Linked DNA regions of Homo sapiens. The protein of the gene in region 1 purifies or fractionates together with the protein of each later gene. This does not show direct contact. Each region holds a gene or a part of one and is shown in the gene's direction. Other genes may lie near its edges.

What was found.
Region 2: the proteins of KDM3A (region 1) and GART fractionate together in Homo sapiens (co-fractionation; one large-scale study listed by BioGRID). This does not show direct contact.
Region 3: the proteins of KDM3A (region 1) and ECPAS fractionate together in Homo sapiens (co-fractionation; one large-scale study listed by BioGRID). This does not show direct contact.

The regions. Positions count from the first base shown.
Region 1 is NC_000002.12:86,444,371-86,448,025, forward strand, and holds part of KDM3A (lysine-specific demethylase 3A), read left to right. Parts: intron 1-3,655. UniProt on the Homo sapiens protein: Histone demethylase that specifically demethylates 'Lys-9' of histone H3, thereby playing a central role in histone code.
Region 2 is NC_000021.9:33,532,095-33,535,749, reverse strand, and holds part of GART (trifunctional purine biosynthetic protein adenosine-3), read left to right. Parts: intron 1-429; coding exon 430-525; intron 526-996; coding exon 997-1,171; intron 1,172-3,293; coding exon 3,294-3,405; intron 3,406-3,655. UniProt on the Homo sapiens protein: Trifunctional enzyme that catalyzes three distinct reactions as part of the 'de novo' inosine monophosphate biosynthetic pathway.
Region 3 is NC_000009.12:111,477,745-111,481,399, reverse strand, and holds part of ECPAS (proteasome adapter and scaffold protein ECM29), read left to right. Parts: intron 1-3,655. UniProt on the Homo sapiens protein: Adapter/scaffolding protein that binds to the 26S proteasome, motor proteins and other compartment specific proteins. May couple the proteasome to different compartments including endosome, endoplasmic reticulum and centrosome.

The DNA.
Region 1 (3,655 bases):
CTCATGTAAGATGCCAATCTTCTGTCTCTTTTCTAGTCATGATTTATCACTGCATTCCTTAGTTGAGTAGCAGATGTTAAGTTTGGGGGCCATGTTGCATTAAAAAAAACCAGGATTTTATTTTACCTTGATTTTAGAGTTGGGGGGTCTTGTTGCCCAGGCTGGTCTGGAACTCCTGGGCTCAAAACACCAAAACCAATTTGTGCTTGGTGAGATGGAGGCAGGAACCAAGTAACTAAGACCATGCTTACACTAGGGTTTAGGGGCATTAAGTTTTTGGGGGGTGAGATGGGGGTGGGGCGAGGGGCTGAGATGAATGTCAATAAATAACATTCAAGTAATATGTAACCATTCTTCTATTATTAGGACAAATACAAGTCTGTCTAGACTGGCTTGTTTAGATAGTTATGGATGATATTAATGAGGCCAAGGCTTGTTAACTTTGTTTCACCTAGAGAGACTTTATAACAAAACCACTTACTTAGATGACAAAAAGAGAATATGTCTAGTAGTTGGTTACAGAGAAGTTAAGGTGAAGACATAATAACAGTGGATAACTATGATTAAATGGTTACATCAGGATTTAGCAAAGAAAAAATAATCATTAAATGGATATTATGTGGCGATTACTTCATTTAATCCTCACAAATATCCTAGATGGTAAACTACATTTTTAGTGTCAAAAACTGAGGCTTAAAGAAGTTAAATAACTTGAGTTTGTCTCCAGACCTTAAACACTAGGCTTTAATATTCAGGTAGAGCGAGGTTAGAGCATTTTATTTTGCTAGCCTCTATATCCCTAGCACCGAGAACACTGCTTGGCATGTAGTGTGTGCTCAGCTATTTGAATGGATAAGTGAAGGAATCATAAAATTATTACCTCTCCTATGGAGAAACAGTTTAGAAAGAATCTACTGATGAGGCAGTAGCATTCTCTTCATCTGGAATAACAACAGATCTTAATTAGATGTGGCTATAAAGACTGCTTTAATCTTATTTTTATCCTGCTCTTTCTACTTGAGTATGAAATGAGTTGCTTCCTAGCTGATTTTGTTCACATAATTATGCGTGGTGGGAATGCCCTGCTTCCTTAACTTGTCCTTTTTTCTTTGAAGCCTACCTTTTTCTTGAGTCTAATGCCCTGCTTCCTTAACTTGTCCTTTTTTCTTTGAAGCCTACCTGTTTCTTGCGTCTAATGCCCCTTCTTAGTCCTTACAGGTGTCCTTAGCAGGCAATTAGTCCTTGCCATCTGTATGTACCATTTCCTGCTATTGTCAGCAATTTGGTGCCTTGACTAATGCCTAGCCTTTCATTTTTGCACACCATTGAAACTTTAATGTTAGTGCAATCTGCTGCCAGTCAAGCCATGTAAAATGAAAAAACTTCTAGCACGGTATAAAAACTGTTTACCCCTTTTAATTGAATGCTGGACCTTGGGATCTTCGACAAACATTTAGGCATAAGAAGACATAAGTGGAAGCACAAGGAATTAATTTCTTTGTGGAGTAGTGAATTAAGTGGTATCCTGCATTGTAGTGCAAGGCATAAAATAGACATGTAATTAAAAATTTGTCTAAAAACCATATCATTCTGTGCTCCTGCTTTTAAACTTGGAAACATTTTCATTGGTGTTTCTGATGGCCTTTATAATCATATAGTCAGGTGAGATGAGAGTATGGTAAGAGTGGGAGATTTTGATATTAGTTTATTAGATACAATATTAATTCATATATCAGAAAGATTTTCTGTTGGGGAAACATTGGCTTGAAAAATCTGAAATATCGAGCATTTGGTCAAGGTGTTTCATAGGTACTAATAAGGTACACATTTGCAAAATACCCATTAAAAGAAGAGCAGATTTCACAATTATAGGTAGTGAATCATAGTTGACTCTGGCCTTTGAAGCCACACAGTGTAAGTCACATCTCATTGTGGGCCAAAGGAGCATGGGTGAAATAACACAATTTAGAATAGAAACTAGCTGCATCTGTCAGCTTGCATGAGCTTGGTCAAGTCACTTTAGTTCTTACTGAATTTAAATGTCTTTTTAGGCCAGGCGCAGTGGCTCATGTCTGTAATCCCAATAATTTGGTAGGCCAAGACGGGTGGATCATCTGGTCAGGAGGTCAGGAGTTCAAGACCAACCTGGCCAACATGGTGAAACCCAGTCTCTACTAAAAATGCAAAAATTAGCCAGGTGTGGGTGGCACTCACCTGTAATCCCAGCTACTTGGGAGTCTGAGGCACGAGAATCACCTGCATCTGGGAGGCAGAGGATGCAGTGAGCTGAGATCGCGCCACTACACTCCAGCTTGGGCAACAGATTGAGACTCTGTCTCAAAAAATAAAATAAGTGTTTTTTTGTAGAAATGTCCACAGAAGAAGCTTTTTTGGGGGATGTCATTAAGTGTAAAACCTCAAACCTTAAGGCACAAATGAAAGATGCTTTGTTTTTTCTGGAAATGGGGTCTCACTCTGTCACCCAGGCTGAAGTGCAGTGGCACAATCATAGCTGACTGCAGCCTCAACTTCCTTGGCTCAAGCAATTCTCCCACCTCAGCCTCCTGAATATCTAGGACCACAGGTGGGCACCACCACTCCTGGTTAATTTTTGTATTTTTTGTAGAGACGAAGTTTCCCCACGTTGCCTTGGCTGGTTTAGAACTCCTGGACTCGAGTGATCCTCCTGTCTTGGCCTCCCAAAGTGCCGGGATTACAGGTGTGAGTCACCATGCCTGACTGACATATATGGTTTTGATAGGAAACTTTTGAACAATATTGAAGAAAGCTCACAACTTGTTGGTTTTCTTATATATTTTTTAAAGTCATCTTTTTCCAAACCAAAATAATGTGATTTTTGGCTAATACAGCATAATATTTGAAAGTCATAAACTTAAATTGTTTTTAAGGAGGTAAACTTTTTTTTTTTTTTTTCAAATCACTCAAAAATTGGGATATGGAAAGGGGCCCTGTCTGTCTTTTGGTTTAGGGTTATCTTAAGCTTTAGATAGTGATCTGGTAAGAACTGTGATGTTGCTTAAGTTTTGGGAAACCACTTAAGATCTTAATCCTTCTTAATTCTGCACTTTTTTTTTTTTTTGCTGAATAGATATTAGATAATTGTGTTGAAGATCCTCTTTCCCCTGCTCCTAACTTAATAAGTGATACCTTGATAAGATTTGAATTAACCATGGAGGTATTAAAACTACCTAGTTGTCTTGCCAGACACTTTACATACACTGTCTTTTAAAATATGCCTAACTATGCAATGAGAGGTGTCACTTTTTTCATTTTGAAAAACATTGAGAGAACTTAGATTTTCTAAGTGAGGGTTCTTAACCTGGGGTGCAAGTTAGTTGGTTTCCTTTGTAATCATAAGTATTTTATTTTATACATGTAAAATCATTCTAAGAGAGATTCAGTGTAGCTGGGAATTCAAGGTCTCTGAATCTGGATCTAGAATTTGTGTGTGCTCATTCCTCTTATACCACATTGCTGATAAATAAGAAAACTGTCTACCTAAAGCTTGGTTGGGTTTGAGGTTGATGTGAATATGGAGCAGAAAGACTAGCCAATTTAGGGGAGATGTCAGAGCATATGGATTCTGTGGCTAGGAAACAGAAAGGAAGATGGGCAGTCTCTGCCCACCTTTATG
Region 2 (3,655 bases), on another chromosome or scaffold:
CGCCGTGTTGACATCTTAATACCAGTGCTGAGGACAGTACTTAGCACATAGTGGATTTTCAGTACAATTGATTGATTGACATTAAAAGACCAATTTCTGAGTATATCTTACGTTTTTTGTTTAATATACAGTCAATATTAGTGACGTGAACAATATCATGGAGGTGATACTTTATGGCTCTTTGGGAAGTTTATTGGTGTTTTCATCTGTCTACAATGATAACGGAGAACTGAGCTCTGTTGGTTAGCCTAATGCACTCTCCTCTGAATTTCACATGTTGAAACTGTCATCTCTGCCAATATAAGAAAACCAACAGATAACAAGCATACTAAAGTATAGAACTTAGTTTTTTTAGTGAGACACTTAGTTTACTTAAGTGGAATGTTTTTGTAAATGCAGTGGTTTTTTTTTTTTTTTTTCTGTTTACAGCCATCTCAATCAGTGACCACACTGCCCTTGCTCAATTCTGCAAAGAGAAGAAAATTGAATTTGTAGTTGTTGGACCAGAAGCACCTCTGGCTGCTGGTAAAGTTTGTTTCTGTTTATTGTTACAGTATATTCAGTGCAAACAGAAGCTTAGGGATCATCTAATCCAATTCATTTTACAGATGAGAATTTGTAATATTATCTTGGAAAAAGAGCTTCCACTCTCGAAATTTATGGAGTCTAGATTTTTTTTCCCAAGCATCAGTTATATGATGAGTTAGAGATCAAATTTGCAGCCATGGAAAACATTTTATATGTCTTTATTCTGCTGTATTCTGGTGTGTGTTTAATAATCCATATATGCAAATATAACAACTTTTGATAGATTTGAATAACATGTTAATAGCATTTTATCTCTATCCAGTAGACAACATGAAAAAGTTAGTTATCCTCTGCCACCAGTCATCTGCCTTGTCTAGATGTAGATATAGTCTGATACTAATTCGTCTTCAGGCTGAAAAGCCCCTGGGGAGACCTTGGTTCACCTAAGGCTACTGTTTTCATCAATAGGGATTGTTGGGAACCTGAGGTCTGCAGGAGTGCAATGCTTTGGCCCAACAGCAGAAGCGGCTCAGTTAGAGTCCAGCAAAAGGTTTGCCAAAGAGTTTATGGACAGACATGGAATCCCAACCGCACAATGGAAGGCTTTCACCAAACCTGAAGAAGCCTGCAGCTTCATTTTGAGGTAGGTAAATGGTTGTCTGTGAAGGACAGTTGTTTAGTTTTGATATTTAAATACACAGGTCAGTGGCCAGGCACAGTAGCTCACCTGTAATCCCAGCACTTTGGGAGGCCAAGGCAGGTGAATCACTTGAGCTCAGGAGTTAGAGACCAGCCTGGGTACCATGGTAAAACCCTGTCTCTACAAAAAATACAGAAAAAAAAAAGCCGGGCATGATGGTGTGCACCTGTAGTCCCAGCTCCTCTAAAGGCCAAGGTGGGAGGATCACTTGAACCCAGGAGGCGGAGGCTGCACTGAGCCAAGATTGTGCCACTGCACTGCAGCCTGGGTGACAGAGTGAGACCCTGTCTCAAAAAAATTAAATAAATATACAGGTCACTTCTGTGTTGAAAATGTAATGCTAGGTCTTTAGGCTGTCTCAAGATGTAGTAAGATAATTAAGGAAAAAACTTTCTCAATAAATATTATGTGGGTTGTCGTTTTCCAGAACCAAAATAAAATGGGATCCTATGCATACAGAGTTTATATGATCTTGTGGCCTTGCAGGAAGATGACATTTTTAATAAAATCTGAGTAGTTCCTCAGGGGAAAAATACACTTGGTTCTGCAGTTGTGCGCTCTTCACAGCCATGTTTTTGGTTTTTGGTTCCCCGCCCCCCACCACCACCCCCCAACCTGAGACGGGGCCTCTCTCTGTCACCCAGGCTGGAGTGCAGTGGCGTGATCTTGGCTCACAGCAGCCTCTGCTTCCTGGACTCAAGTGATCCTCCCACCTCAGCCTCCCAAGTAGCTGGGACAATAGGCACACACCACTACTCCCAGCTAGTTTTTATATTTTTTGTAGAGACGGAGTTTTACCATGTTTCCCAGGCCGGTCTCAAACTCTTAAGCTCAAGAGATCCGCCTCTCTCTGCCTCCCAAAGTGCTGGGATTACAGGCATGAGCCGTAACACTAGGCCTCACGGTCAGATTGACAAACGCAGTGGCATCTTACAACATAAAGAACATTGATTTTTTTTGTCATAAATAATTAACCAGAGTGAGTAATCATCACTTGGTCATCTGCCACCACTATTGCCATTTTATTTTATTTATTTATTTATTTATTTTTATTTTTATTTATTTATTTATTTTTTTTTTTTTGAGTCTCGTTCTTTCACCCAGGCCGGACTGCAGTGGCGCTATCTCTATCTCGGCTCACTGCAAGCTCCGCCTCCCAGGTTCATGCCATTCTGCTGCTTCAGCCTCCCGAGTAGCTGGGAATACAGGCGCCCACCACCACTCCAGGCTAATTTTTTGTATTTTTAGAAGAGACGGGGTTTCACTGTGTTAGCCAGGATGGTCTCGATCTCCTGACCTCGTGATCCGCCCGCCTCGGCCTCCCAAAGTGCTGGGATTACAGGCGTGAGCCACCGCGCCTGGCCACTATTGCAATTTTAAATTTCAAAATTAAACATCCTTTGTTCTCTATTATGTGGAAAGCATTGAGCAATTAATGAGTGTTAGTAGACACATGCATTTGCCCTTTTTTTGTTGGCACTTCTGCTTCCTGGTTATGTTTTCCTTTCAGTTGTGTCAGTTTCATTTTTTTTTCATTCATATCCTAAAGAGTTTCTTAAACACTGAATATTATTATTTCCTAGCAGCCAGATGCCTTGAGCAAGTAACAGTTTTGTTACTTACTTTGGGTAAGTCTCCTTCCAGACCCCCAGGCCCACTTGATAATTTCATATGTGTACTCCCAGAAATGGTCTGTGTATGCTTACTGTTGTTATACAGCCGCATTTTCTACCTGAATGAGAGTACTATTTGCTACTTTGTATCTTAGAGATTATGCCATATCTACTCTATACATCTACTTATTCTTCCAAAGATATTGCCTATGTAATCTCATGATAAATGAAAAAAGCAAAATTGTAGGTACTGTATGATTGGAACTACAAAGGAATACGTAGGGGAAAAAATCCTGGTGGGAAGTACATCAAAATGTGTTGGAATGATAATTAATTTTTTTCTTTCTGCTTTTCAGTCATTGCTATAGCATATCGTTACAAAATCCCACAGCATTTTAAAATCTTGAGTTGTAATGGTTTATTGGATGTTGACGATTACTCTGTCTTTACAGTGCAGACTTCCCTGCTTTGGTTGTGAAGGCCAGTGGTCTTGCAGCTGGAAAAGGGGTGATTGTTGCAAAGAGCAAAGAAGAGGCCTGCAAAGCTGTACAAGAGATCATGCAGGTAGGCTGGGTCTTCTGAAAAAATTTACTTTTCTATTCATACTGAATAAATACCGTTTTAAGTTTAAAAAATGTTCCTCACAATAAGGAAAATCTATTTTGCAAACATATGGGTAAGTTATTTTTTATAATCCCATGTATTATAATCCATCTCTATAAAATAGTTATGGATTTACACTGTAAATTAAACCATGATTGTATTATTTTGAAGTAAATTGTAACATCCTTTGTTGTCTGCCACTGAAAGAAAA
Region 3 (3,655 bases), on another chromosome or scaffold:
CGAGTAGCTGGGACTGCAGGCGCCCGCCACCACGCCCGGCTAATTTTTTGTATTTTTAGTAGAGACGGGGTTTCACTGTGTTAGCCAAGATGGTCTTGATCTCCTGACCTTGTGATCTGCTGTGATCCACCCGCCTCGGCCTCCCAAAGTGCTGGGATTACAGGCGTGAGCCACCGCGCCCGGCCCCCACTGTACTGTTTTTGACAGTGGTTGTACCATTTTACATTACCACCAACAATACACAGAGTTCTAATTTCTCTATATCCTGGCCGACACTTATCTATATTGTCAGTAGTAACCATCCTGTTGGGTGTGAGGTGGTCTGATTTTTTTTCAATTGCTATGCTGTATGACATCTGAGTTCCTGTTGTAGAACCAAACACATTAAAGTCTGAATTGATAGCAGGAATGGGAACAAAACTAGAGGAAGAATTGGATATTCTGAAGTGGCTGAAGTATTTGTGTCTATGCAGTGTGCTTCCATACATTCAGGTACTGGTTAAGATGCTGATAGTTAAGGGATTTCCTGGCTCTAGTACCTAATGGAAAGTTAGGAACAAATAATTCCAATCCTTGCCTTCTTCTTGTTTTGTTCAGTTAAATTGTCAGTCATCAGCCACAGATATCGGTGGACTTGGTTTCTGTATTTCTTCAGGAGAGACTGAATACGTTGCAGTTGATACCTTAGAATAATTTAACTTGAAAGCATATACATGTACACTGGTTAAGAAGTTTCATATAAACCACTTTTAGTTTTAGAATGGGTATAATAAAATAGCAGATGCTGATAAAATGTGCTTTTGGCCAGGTGTGGTGGCTCACACCTGTAATCCTAGCACTTTAGGAGGCCGAGATGGGTGGATCACCTGAGGTCAGGAGTTCAAGACCAGGCTGGCCAACATGGTGAAACCCTGTCTCTACTAAAAATACAAAATTTAGCCTGGTGTGGCGGCACGTGCCTGTAGTCCCAGGTACTCAGGAGGCTGAGGCAGGAGAATCACTTGAACCTGTGAGGTGGAAGTTCCAGTGAGCCAAGATTGTGCCGCTGCACTCCAGCCTGGGCAACAGAGCTAGACTCTGTCTCAAAAAAAAAAAAAAAAAAAAAAAGAAAAGGTGCTTTTAAGAATTCCACTAAAAAAAAAGGAGAGAATTATCCAAATATTTTCTATCATTTATGACTAGTAGATGATAGTAAAAGCAAACTACTAGATGCCAGCATTGTTCTCTTCCACTAACATTTTATTGTAAAAAATCTTCAAACACACAGAAAAGTTGAAAGTGAACATTCGTGTACCCACCACTTAGATTCTATCATTGATAGTCAAATAACTTTATCATATTTACTATTATAGCAAACTTTGTCATTTGTCCATCTCAGTAGATTTTTAAAAATTGTTAAAGTTTTTTTTTTTTTTTTTTGAGACGGAGTTTCAGTCTGTCACCCAGGCTGGTGTGCAGTGGCGCGCGATCTCGGCTCACTGCAACCTTTGCCGCCTGGGTTTAAGCAATTCTCCTGCCTTAGCCTCCTGAGTAACTGGGATTACAGGCACCTGTCACTGCGCCCAGCTAATTTTTGCATTTTTAGTAGAGACGAGGTTTCACCATCTTGGCCAGGTTGGTCTTGAACTCCTGACCTCGTGATCCCCCCACCTCAGCCTCCCACAGTGCTGGGATTACAGGCGTGAGCCACCATGCTTGGCCAATTGTTAAACTTTTTTAGTTTTACTTTATTTTTTAAAAAATAGTAGTAAAATACACATAACATAAAATTTACCACCTTAACAATTTTTTTTGTTGTCTTTTTCTGGAGACGGAGTCTTGCTCTGTCGCCCAGGCTGGAGTGGAATGGCGCCATCTTGGCTCACTGCAACCTCCACATCCTGGGTTCAAGTGATTCTTCTGCCTCAGTCTCCCGAGTAGCTGGGATTACAGGTGTGCGCCACCATGCCCGGCTAATTTTTTTTTTGGTAGAGACAGGATTTCACCGTGTTGGCCAGGCTGGTCTCGACCTCCTGACCTCATGATCCGCCCCTCCTGGTCTGCCAAAGTGCTAGAATTAAAGGTGTGAGCCACTGTGCCCTGCCTGCCTTAACAGTTTTTAAGTGTACAGTGGTATTAAGTACTTATTACTCCATCTTTTTTTATGCATTTCAAAGTAAATTGGTGACACCAACACACCTTCCCCCTAAATATTTCAGCACCAGCATTGTTTTAAATGCTTTGTATGTATTATTCCTCAGAATAACCCTGAAAGGTAGGTAACATTATTATTGCTGCTTTATGGAGAGAGAAACAGGCTTCTTAGGTCCCCTGGGTCCTGCAGCTGGAAAGTAGTCCCAGTGTCCTCAGTCTCTAGTATGCACTCACAGCCATCCTTGAGGCCATCTTACCTCTTTGCACCATAGTCAGAGTGTGTATGATGAACAGTTCAAATCAGATGCATTGCCAGATTCTCAGCTAGATGTTACCTTAATCCAACCATTTGACTGTTGTTTATCATTGCTGTTGGGTACAAAAGAGACACCAAAGCCCACCAAAGGAATTACAATACTATTGAGGAAGAGGAAGAATATGTGTAAACAGATAAGTAAGGACCAAAATATGACTGTATGATATGGATAATACTAAAGTAATATCATATGTGATTCCCAGGTCTGTTATTTTGAGATGTGTAGCTGGTAAAACTGCATTTCTATAGATTTCAAATGAACATTTTCTGCCTTGCATTTGAAGTAATTTACGTCATATCAATTTAAATGAAATCTGCAACTTTCAGTTATATCTGCTACCACACTTTGTAGGAGAAGCAAAATTGACTGTTAGGGTTCTCTTTTATTTTATTTATTTATTTATTTGTTTATTATTTTGTTTTTGAGATGGAGTCTCGCACTGTTGTCCAGGCTGGAGTGCCGTGGTGCAATCTCAGATCACTGCAACCTCTGCCTTCTGGGTTCAAGCGATTCTCCTGCCTCAGCCTCCTGAGTAGCTGGGATTACAGGTGTGCGACACTGCGCCTGACTTATTTTTGTATTTTTAGTAGAGACGGGGTTTCACCATGTTGGCCAGGCTGGTCTCGAACTCCTGACCTCGTGATCCACCCACCTCTGCCTCCCAAAGTGCTGGGATTACAGGCGTGAGCCACTGTGTCCGGCCTATTTATTTTTTTTGAGTAATACCATTGAGCATGAAGTTGCCAGAAGGCTGGGTGCGGTGACTCAAGTTTGTAATCCCAGCGCTTTGGGAGGTCGAGGTGGTCAGATCACTTGAGTCCAGGAGTTCGAGACCAGCCTGGGCAACATGGTGAAACCCTGTTACTACAAAAAATATAAAAATTAGCTGGGTGTGTTGGCATGCGCCTGTAGTCCCAGCTACTTGGGAGGCTGAGTGGGGAGGATGGCTTGCACCCAGGAAGTCAAGACTGCAGTGAGCTGAGATCACACCACTGCACTCTAGCCTGGGTGACAAAGCGAGACCTTGTTTCAAAAAAAAAAAAAAAAAAGTTGCCAAAAATAGGCAGGTTAATTTTGGGGTGAGACTTGTTATTGTTAGCATTTGTTATCCTTTCACAAACCTCATGTTTGAGTCAGTGATTATAATAGAAGAATAGTAAAGCTGTTTATTTATTGTGTGTTTACCGTGTGTTCTAATTGTTTTG